2 separate regions of the Homo sapiens genome follow, and region 1 is linked to region 2. Evidence: fine-mapped expression QTL. Tissue or cell type: tibial nerve. Region 2 holds a variant in brackets; the other region holds the start of a gene. All regions are shown on one strand. Distances are from middle to middle.

Region 1 (5,221 bases), 48 kb after region 2:
ATTTCACAACACCTCTGCCTGTCCAATACCCCCTGCCCCCCAACACATCCTGGAAGGCCAGGCCAGATGACCCAGGTGTATCTGCTGCAGGAAGAGAAGGCAAAGGGGACGGGGCAAGGGACAGATGTCTGCAGCCAGATTCCACCCTCAAGAATGACCTTAGGCAAGCCCTGATCTTTTTCTTGAGGCTTCGGTTTGCTGAACTGTAAAATGGGAGAATTGGATAGGAGTTCTCAAGGGTCCAGCAGACTCATTCAAGCCTTTACTGCACCATCTAACACATGCTGGGACCTGAGACCTGGAATGCTGGAGACATGTCTGATGTGGTCACAGCCCAGTGAGGGAGACAGACGTGTAGACCATCACAATACAGTGTGGTCAGAGGTAGAACAGAGGCATGAACCAACTCAGTTGGTGGAATCAGGAAGGACTGTCTGGGGAAGCAGAATTTGAGTTGGACTTCGAAGAATGAGTAGGGTGGGCCTAGAACTGGGGTATACCCACAAGGAAAAACCTTCAAACTTTGCTGTTCAATATTTGCACTGCCTCAGGAGATAGGGGCATCCAGTCACTGCGGGGTGGATGCAGGCGCTGAAAGACATGGGATCTGGAATGTCAAGGAGATGGGAACTCGGCCAGGTGGCAGTTCTAGTCTTAGGGTCTGAAAACCAAAATCCACAACTGCCTGAGAGTTTGGCTGCTAGTGTGCGTTGGTGAGAGCCCAGCCCGTCTCAGACAGGGACCACCGGGAAGGTAAGACTCAAGACTTGGGAGCGGACGAGTGTCAGGGCTCCCAGTGAGCCCACACTCATGATGGCCTGCGCATGCAGGCAGCCCTGGGCTTGGAGTCCAGAGGCCTCCGTCACAAGTTTGGTCTACTCTTTACTGGTTGTGCCACCTTGCCCTGGCCACCACATCCCCCTGAACTACACAGAGCTTCCCCATCTGTACCTTGGGTGCTCACGGCAGCCACCCCAGAGGTAGTTGGGAGGATCAAATGATTTACTGTTTTGTAGGTGGCCTTTACAAACTGTAAAGTGTGCCGGACACAGAAGGCAGTGTGATTGTTGAAATGTGTGGCTCATAACAGGCTGCTTCTCGGGCTATTTTGTAAGCAGGGAAAGCAGTTTACCGCCAAAGATGTTGAAGTAATAATGGTGGGATTCCTGGCACAGACATGTAGGCTGGCAACAGATGGGAGGTGCAATGGGCCTTTCCGCCTCTGCCCGTCTTTGCCCACCCTCGCTCCAACATCTCGGAACAGCTTTACACGGGCCTGTTTTGGGGAACGGAGAGCCTGTGGGCCTTGGGGAAGGGCAGATGCTTGGCCCTGGTCCCTGGGGTGGAGCTGACTAGGGACTGCTGACTTAGAAGACCACCTAGAGGGGTGGCCAGTGGAATCCCCCCAACTACACCCCTAAGAGGGGTAGAGTTCCCATCTGCACCCGCAAGATGAAGCAGAGATGAGGCTGCTTTGGAAGCCCCCAGTCTTGGGCTATTGGTGTGGGGTCGAGAGCCTCCCTGAGGGGTGTCCTGGGCTGCTCTGTCAGAACCCCAGCAGGGAGCCTTGCCTGGCCTCTGACTCACACCCTTGCCCCAGTGGAGGCCAAGGCCTTGAATGACCACCCGGCCCTTGACATCGTAGCTTCGCAGCATCCTCCCTGCGTTGAGGCCACCCTGCGGGCTAAGGGGCAGGTGGGCACCCTTCCATGGGGCTGGGGGCTGAGGAGCAAGGAGGTCTCAGCATGGCCTACTGGTGGGAGACCCACCTCAGGCGCTCCCAACTGTCTCCCTCCCGTGGCCCCTCTGCACGGCCGGGTTCTGATTTTGGTGCAGTGCAGACTTTCAGCTTAACGAGACAAATTGGTATTCTGTGCCAGCCCAGGGATGGAGCGGCAGCTCGGGACGCTCGGGCGGGCAGCTCAGAGGTGGGCAGGAGGTGGGGGCAGGGGAAAGAGGCAGCTTCTGCCTGGAACTGCCTCCCGGGGCCGCCTCCAGCCCTGCCCCTGTCCCCCATGCACCCCTCCACCCTGACAGGTGCCCTGAGACACTGGTCCTGAAGGTCCTTCCACCTTCAGTGCCCTCCCTCCAAGCAGGGTACCCCTCCTGGAGGGGGCAGGGCAGTGGAGGCCAAGGCTTCAGAATTCTAGAGAAGCCCCTCGCCCCCGGTGACCTCCTAACCTTGCTCTTAGGGCTCTCCTCCCACCCATCTGGAGTTGAAAGAGCAGCAAGTCTGGCAGAGATTAGGCAGGAAGAGGTGAGCAGCTGGCTAGGGGCTTCCAACCCTACCGACTCCTCACCCGGGGTCCCTGGGTTCCCGTGGAAGTGTCAGTCAGCCCACAGTCGGCCTGCAACTCATCATAGATGTCCTGAAGATTAGGTGGGTGTACAGACATGCAGACACCCCTGCTGGTGGGCACCTTCTTGAGGCAGGCCCTTCTGCCAAGCCAGCCCCCACCACCACACCCCCCCGAGGGCAGGTGGGGTCGCACACAGGCAGGGCGGGTCGCAGGGGTAGCGCTTCAGGGCAGCAGAGAGCTGCTGCGGGCTCAGCTCCACTGGCCCTGGAAACACAGATGTGTTTAAAATGTGTTGAGTCGACTTCTCCCCATTTGCGACCTTTGCCCCTTTGCCCCCCAGGTCTGGGGGTGCCTTGACTGCAAAGAGGGGGGCCAGAGCCCCTGACCAAATAAGTCCCCCAGAAAGCAAGGGACGACTTGGGGCCATTTGAGCAAAATCCTCCCCTCTCTGCTCCCGTTCTCCCCACCACCACTCTCAGGACCCCCTTCCCTCCAGCACAGCCCAGCCCTACCCTCTCCGTGCCCTTGACATTCCCTCCTGCTTCTGGGGAGCGGGCATATTCCTGGGACTCTGCCAGCTTCGGTTCCTCATGATCCCACGGGAGGAATTAAAACCGCAAACAACAGCGTGGTGGTTCGGTCCACACACCCCCCCCGCCCCCCACTCTCCTCCCCCGTGCCCCCTCCAGAACCGGCCCTCCCTGTGTCCCTCCCTCCCTCCCTCCTCCCGCCCCCATCCCCCAGCCTCCGGCAGCGGCAGGGGCGGCCTCTGCCTCCCCCGAGATTGCATTTTGCCGGCGAGATGCTCTCCTAGAACCGGCGCCGGCGCCTCCGCCCCCCGCCCCCCACCCGCTCGGGCAGGATGGTACAGTCTGCAGAGGGGCCCGGGCACGCTGGCTGGGCTCAGCCGCGGCACCAGCTGCCGCACCGCGATTACGGGGCTGCCCGCCGGGAAACCGTGCAGGATTGGTGGTGATTTTCATAGCCAAGTAAGTACCGGCATCCCCCAGCATGAGAAAATAAAAAATAAAAAGCGCCCCACTCCACTCTCCCCTTCCTCCCTCACCCATTTTATTTTGTTTCATTTCATTTGATTTTTCTCAGTGCTGATGGTGGTGGCGGTGGCAGCGTGGAGGGGGGGTGGGAGCAGGGCTTGTTTATCTGGCAGCAGCCGAGGCTGCACTGGGAGCCGCCGCTGAGGGAGACACTAGTGTGAGGGTCCGCGTGTTGTGGGGGACGGCTGGATGCTGGGGACTAGGACAGGGGGGCCTCGGACAAGCGGATGCCCAGGGTCTCAGGTAGATTCCGGCAGCCTCTGGACTGCAAATGCCCCCTAAGGATGTTATGCAAGGGCCAGCAAGCTGGTGGCAGGGGACAAGGTTCTCTTCTCTCTGAGCCGGTCCCAGGGAGACCAAGAGGACTGGAGGGTGCCCGTTGCCCACCCTGGTCAGAGTCCCAGGAAAGAGGCAGGAGGAGGCCCCTGTGAAGCGTCCCTTTGGTGGGGTGGGCAGCTGTGTGCTGGGACTCATTGGGTCAGGCCAGCCGGGTCATGTGGTGGCAGGGACGTGTTCCTGGGTCCCCTCCATGGCCAGGAGGGTGGCAGGAACGGGTGGCCAGGCCATTTTGCAGCAGTCATGCTGGGTGGTGGAGTCGGCACCCTCTGCCCAGAAGCCCACTTCCTAGGCCAGCCTCAGTGGTCTCCAGCTGAGGGATAGGGCACCTGAGGCTCCTCCCTGCCCCCTGCAGGGTCAGGATGGGAAAATGCAGCAGGGGGCCTCAGGACTCCCTGAGGGTGGGTTGCGGACAGCAGCAACCCCTTTCTAGCCAAGTAGCTATTCCACACCACGGCTGTCCTCTGCTCACCCAGGTTGGGGGTTGGGGGTTGGGGGGGTGCTCTGGACTGGCCTGCCCCAATCAGGCAAGGGCCCTGGGGGTCTCGGGCCCTCCATGCAGAGGCCCAGCCTGGCTCGACCTTCAGAAGGGTAAGTGAGCAGGCAAGCCCGACCAGCCGGCAGAGGGTCTTAGTGCGACGCTGCATGCCCTGAGCCCAGCGTGGAAGGGGCTCCCTCCTCTCCTGCATTGCTCTCCGAATCGCTGGGAGGAGGCAGAGCTGACGTTTGGGGTATTTCCAGGATCAGCGGGCGCCATCCGGAGAAATTCTCCTTTGACGTGTGCAGTAGGAGGGGGCTTGGAGCGCAGGCCTTGGGGGCCTCCGCCTGTTAACTTCGTTGAAGGAGCAGTGGCAAAGAAGGGGCTGCAGCTCTGGGGAGTCCTGTGGGGGGTTGGGGGTCCAGGAAAGATGCTGATGGCCACCATTATTTAGCCACCTTCACACCCTAGTCCCATTCACATCAGGGCATATGCATGCCCACAAATTCACACATATGCACAGATACAAATATAGTACCCATAAGTAGTGCGTCATATATGTCCAAATCATATATACACATATGGAATGCCCATGCCCACACCCCAGCACCTGTAAATACAACCCACGTTCCTGAACACCACATGCTCACGTGCAAAACACAGCACACACACGAATGCAGTACACACATACACACCTGTGCATGCAGCTTGCCCACACATGCATGTAGCACTAACACGGGAAAGCAGTAGGCTGCACACAGTGCCCTGCAACAGCCAGAAATGTGTGTACCCACCTGAGGGCTGGCTCAGGTGTGAAAACAACAGGCACACACATGTGGGGCTCTGAATGCCATCTGCGTGCCTGCCCGTGCATTGGCAGGCACATGGCATGCTGGAATGTGCCCACAGGTGAATGTCAGTTGCACACATAAGAAGACGGCCACAGGCACACAGATGCAGCACCTCTGCGGATGCTGCGTGCACACACCCGCCCCCTCAGCTTCCAGGAGGCAAGGTGGCTCTGTGGGTGCTAGGGAGAGCTTGCCCCTTAA
Region 2 (5,221 bases):
CACCACTAGAAAGACAGCTCGAGGGAGCAGAGACCTTGTTCACCCTTGTCCCCCCAGTGCTAGTGGAGAGCCTAATACCTACTAGGTGCTCAGTAAAAATTTGAGAGCAGTCACATAGACAAATCAGACATATCCCTGGCCTGGAGAACCTGGGTTTTCCGTGAGCACTGCCTGTCATAAAATGGGCTTCTGGCCAAGCACAGTGGCTCACGCCTATAATCCCAGCACTTTGGGAGGCCAAGGAGGGCAGATCACTTCAGGTCCGGAGTTTGAGACCAGCCTGGTCAACATGGTGAAACCCTCGTCTCTACTAAAAATACAAAAGTTAGCCAAGCGTGGTGGTGGGTGCCTGTAATCCCAGCTACTCAGGAGGCTGAGGCAAGAGAATTGCTTGAACCCGGGAGGCAGAGGTTGCAGTGAGCCAAGATTGTGCCACTGCACTCCAGCCTGGGTGACAGAGCAAGACTCCATCTCCAAAATAAAATAAGAGGGCTTCTGACCTGTCTCTCACAAAGAAAGCCACAGAGAAGGTGGGATCTGGGCTCTGGGGTCCTAATCAGGCCAGCTATGCAGGCATCTGGGATGATAGCAGCCATTCTAGTGAAAACAGCCACTGCCTTTTGCTGCATGCTCACTCTGGACCCTGTAAGGAACCCTTCCCACACAGCATCTTATGGGCTTCTCCCCACCAGCCCCACAATGGAGGTGCTGCTATTCCTCCCATTCAACAGGGGAAGAGACAAAGCTCAGAGAAGAGGCATAACTAGTCAAGAATCACTCTGTCAGGGCCAGAGATGTGTTGGAGCATTGGAGCCCAGATGTGTTGGCCACCATGGCTGGAGCCCTTAGCACCAACATCAAGGTGCCACAAGGAAGCCAGAAGCCCAGCACAAAGAGATGAATGTGACCTTGCACAGGGAGGTCAGGGAAGGCTTCCCGGAGGAGGCAGCATTTGCTCTGGACCTTGACAGATACATAGGAGTTTTCTAGGTGAAGGGGAGGAGACAGAAGCATAATAGGTGTTAATCCTGTGGTCCATTCAACAGGCAATCATTGTACTCCTGTGTGCTGGGCAGAGATAATGCCCTTCTGGGAATGAAGCCCTCAGATTCCAAAGAAGGCTGAGAGGAAACAGCCAGTTGCTGTGAAACACAGAGCAGGGCCTGGGCCTGGCTGAGAGAAATCTAAGAGCAGGCATTGAGCACCTACTGTGTGCTCACATTTTATCCTTGCCGTTTGATGTGGAAGGTGCTATTCCCATTTTCAAAGAAAGGCACTGAGGCCATAGGCTTTGGGCTGCCTGTGCTTGGCAGGGGCGAAAAGGAGGAGAGTACCCTCCTGCCTGTCACATAATGGGCCTCTGACCTGCCTGTGCCCAAGAAAGGTTCAGAGGGGATAGGTTTGGGGTCTGGGGTCCTGATCAGGCCAGCTGGCAGAGAATGGCAGGGAAGGGGCCTAGAAGTTCCAACTCCCTGGCAGGTGGCCTCAGTAGCCTCAACAAGGTCTGACCCACACCCAGAGGTGCCTGTCACTGTTTGTGTTACTTGCTTTGGGACCTTGAGTAAATCATTTTATTCCCCTGGGCCTTCTGTTTTCTGAACTCCAAAAAGCTAAATGTGATCTTCAAGGCCCTGCTTCTGGCTTAGGCATTGCAGATTTCTAAGTGTGGTGTATTAGCTTACTATTGCTGCTGTAACAAAAAACCATAGACCAGGGGATTTAAAATTGATCAGCTGACAGTTCTGTAGTCAGAAGTCTGACACAGCTCTACCGGGCTGAAATCGAGGCAGAGCCACATTCCTTCTGGAGGCTGCGGGGGAGAAGAATCTGTCTCTGGGCCTTTTCCATCTTCTAGAGGCTGCCTATTTCCTTGATTCACAGACACTGAATCTTCTGCCTCCCTTTTCCACTTTTAAAGGTCCTTGTATTCCATTGGCCCACCCAGATCATCCAGGGTGATCTCCCCTGTCTTAAAGTCAGCGGTGAGACACCTTCACTCCATCTGCACCCTCATTTCCCTTTGCCATAAGCTGACATATTCACAGGCTCTGGGGGTTTGGATGTGGGTGTCTTTGTGCAGCCATTATTCTGCCTTCCACACCTGGAAACTGAGACATTTCTGAGAGGCCTTGGGCAAGCTGTCTCCCCTTTTTGGACCCAGTTTTTTCTCTTCTGTGAAATGGTGTGGCTGCTTTGAAAACAAAGTGAGAGGATGAGTGTTCAGGTGGGTTACAAAGGGTCAAGCGCCATACATGGGGTTAATTCTTTATTCCTGGGGTATTTCTATTGCCAGCAATGGCAGCTGGCAGCCTCTCACCGGGCCCTCATGCCTTCCTATGCCTTGTTCTGAAAAGCTGCAGCCCCCACCCCCGCCCCACTAGACCCCCAGAAAACAAACGTGGGTCTGTGTACCGCTCCTGCTCATTATAATCTCTTGCTTCTTTTCACAAAACCCCAGGGGCCCCTGGGATTTGGGAGCTGGGGGATGTCACTCAAGGATGCCTATTGAG[T/C]GCTAAACAATGGCCCCCTCATGAGGTCATAGGGCCGCTTAGCAACCACCCAGGCCCTTAGTAACGGGCCCAGAAGTGTTGATATTTACCCAACAGAAACTTTGGATTATCTCGATAACACCCAGTTCCTTCCAGAGAGCTGCAGGCACTAAAAGCAAGCTCCACCCACTCCGAGCTGCTGCTCTGGCTCTTCCAAGAGCAGGCCTATGGAGGGGCAGGGAGTCCTGGGTTTCCCCCCCAGCTCTGCAATCCTCTGAGGGCCTCAGTTTCCCCCACAACATGGGGATCAGACTAAATAAGTACTAAATATTTAAGTAGTATGACTGTATGTCCCTGCTGGCCCAGAACAGTTCCATTTTATCAAGACTATTAAAAGAGGCGTTTTCATTCTCAAGAGTTGGAACATCAACCTTCTGGTCACCCACCTCTAAAAGGCCACTTCCAGCCCTCAATCCCATTGTTCTTCCCCTCCACCCTCTTTCCCAGTCTGAATTAATCCTGAATAGTTTCACCTAGCTTTTTCAAGGTCCCTCTCTGTGTCAGGCATGGAACAGGGCGCTGAGGAAACTGAGGCAAACCAGACGTGGTCCCTGCTTTCAGGAGCTTCCAGTCCGGGAAAGAACACCGCTTAAACACTCTGCAGAAATCTAGGTCTGAATCTAGAACCTTGCAATTCTCAGACTTATTTGTGTTGTCTTCACTAAGCTATTTTAGTAAATAATAATACTCCATAGAATTCCGGTGGCATTTTGCAGTTTCTAAAGCATTTCTGTTATGTTCCCTCATTTAACCCTGACATCATCTGAAGGTGTGATTTTAATATATTCCCATTGCACAGATGGGGAACTGGAGGCTGGAGGCCATAGAGGACAGAGCAGTTGGATGCCCTTGAGGAGCAATTCAATCTCTGCCTCCTTGCCTTCGAAATGGAGATGTTAGCTCCCACTTCATAGAACTGTTATGGAAAGTAAATGAGACAGCACATAGAAAGTCCTTTGGAAAGTGACAGCTGCCTAAAATGAGTGTTTCTGCCCTGAGCTGTCTGTGGCCTCAGCAGTTGCACTTCCTGGATGTTCTCCAGTTCACCTGCTTCTCACATGCCCACAGACACCCATTTGTAAATTTCCTGACCCATTTTTGAGCACAGGGAACACATCTTGGTTGGAACCCCAGCTCTGCCTCAGGGCAGCACTGTGGCCTCGGGCAACTTCTAGCCTCAGTTTCTTCATTTGTAAGAGGAGATAAGAACAAGTCATCCTGAGGATGGAAGGAAGCAAATAACATAAAAGCAGTGCTGAGGGGAGCCAACCCAGCACATAGCTGTTGCTCACAAATGGGAGGTTCTGGATTGCCTTTCTGATGTTAAGTATGTGAGAAGACTTTGAACGTGTTTGTGTGAGAGGGAGCTATGGAGGGCAGCACCCACAAGATGGGATTTTTCCCTCACCCCAGGAGCCAGGCCAGCACTCACTTTGGGCGGAAGGCAGGACGCTGCCACCTTCTCTAAGGTTGGCTTCCAGCCACGTTGCAGCAAGGGGGTTCGGCTGACGAAAGCTGTTCCCTCTGTGCCCCACTCACCTTGCAGGAGGAGAAGGGCCCCCTCTTCCCCTTTTCTTTACAGAGTAGCTCCACAGGGGCAAATCTGTCAGATGCCATGGTGATGCCTATGTGGTTTCCCGCCCACGCCCCTCGCCAGTGCTATGAGTCACCAACCGGCACCGAGGCGGCGGCCGTGGGAAGGGTGTTCCCTCTCCGGCTGCAGAAATGCTGCCACAGGCGAGCTCTAGAAAGCCAAAACTGGGCCCCAGGATAGGCACAGTGAGGTTCCTTATGCAACTTTTGACATTGTTCGGAATCAGTGTTACAGAAAGCCCAAACCCAGCCCCATGATAGGCATGGCTACATTTCTTATGCAACCTTGGCATTGTTCAAAAGCAGCGTTAATGTTCGCAACTTCCATTTGCTGAGGGCCCTAGGGAGCTGGCCCAGCCTAGACTTCATGTCCTGCTTCCCACAGCCCAGGAAGAAGCTAGAGTCCCCTTTTCAACAGATGGGGAAAGTGAGACATGCTTGGGGTCACATGGCCAGGACATTCCCAGATGTGACTCCCCTTTACTGGCAGACCAAGGTAGCTTTTGGAATTGGAGACAGACCAAAACAGGTAAATATGATTGATACATTGTGTTCTTGTTTGAATGAAACATAATTGTGAGCAATTGTGTACAGTTGCCGGGCTGAAGGTTTGAACTCTTGATTTCTTAAAAGGAAAGAAAAATCTATCTCTAAATCTGAGTTAGCCTAGAATAGAAATATGTTTACAGCAAAATATTTCTTTATACAAAACTTTGCATTGCCAAAGCAGGGCTGTGGAATATGCATGCGTGTTAGTGGGGTGTTACAGAGGAAGGAACTGCATCAGGGATTGTATCTTGCAAGTAGCACTGACAGTGATCACAGATCCGCATCTGAGACGTTGAGCTTGGCCGCTTTGGCCCCATCTGTGCCCATGGTGGGCTTGATAATCGGCACGTCCATTCACCACTGCCTTGCCAGGTCCTAAAGCCATACTACCTGCTTCACTGCAGGCTGCGTCTCTCATCTTTCCCCCACTGAATTCACTGATCACTCCTCCATCAGGTACTCTAACTGTCCCATGAGCTCCTTAAGAATAGGAGCTGAGCTCCAGGAGGCTATGTGTTGGGAGAAGGGGG

Evidence for each region. PIP is the estimated chance that this variant, and not a neighbour inherited with it, causes the effect. A credible set is the group of variants that fine-mapping cannot tell apart.
Region 1: ATP2B2 starts here. The variant in region 2 is the best candidate, but not a certain one, in a credible set for the expression of ATP2B2 in tibial nerve (GTEx, PIP 0.67).

Annotation. Positions count from the first base shown.
Region 1 is chr3:10,503,533-10,508,753 of GRCh38, reverse strand. It overlaps ATP2B2 (ATPase plasma membrane Ca2+ transporting 2), which reads left to right and starts at 3,168. Exons shown (of 23, transcript NM_001001331.4): 1 at 3,168-3,289. RefSeq lists enhancers at 3,179-3,845, 3,846-4,512.
Region 2 is chr3:10,551,170-10,556,390 of GRCh38, reverse strand. It overlaps a transcript of ATP2B2 not described here. Among named protein-coding and RNA genes, the nearest start is that of ATP2B2-IT1, 17 kb to the left of the region's middle. RefSeq lists a silencer at 2,412-2,706. The variant T/C (reference allele first, on the strand shown) is at 2,511.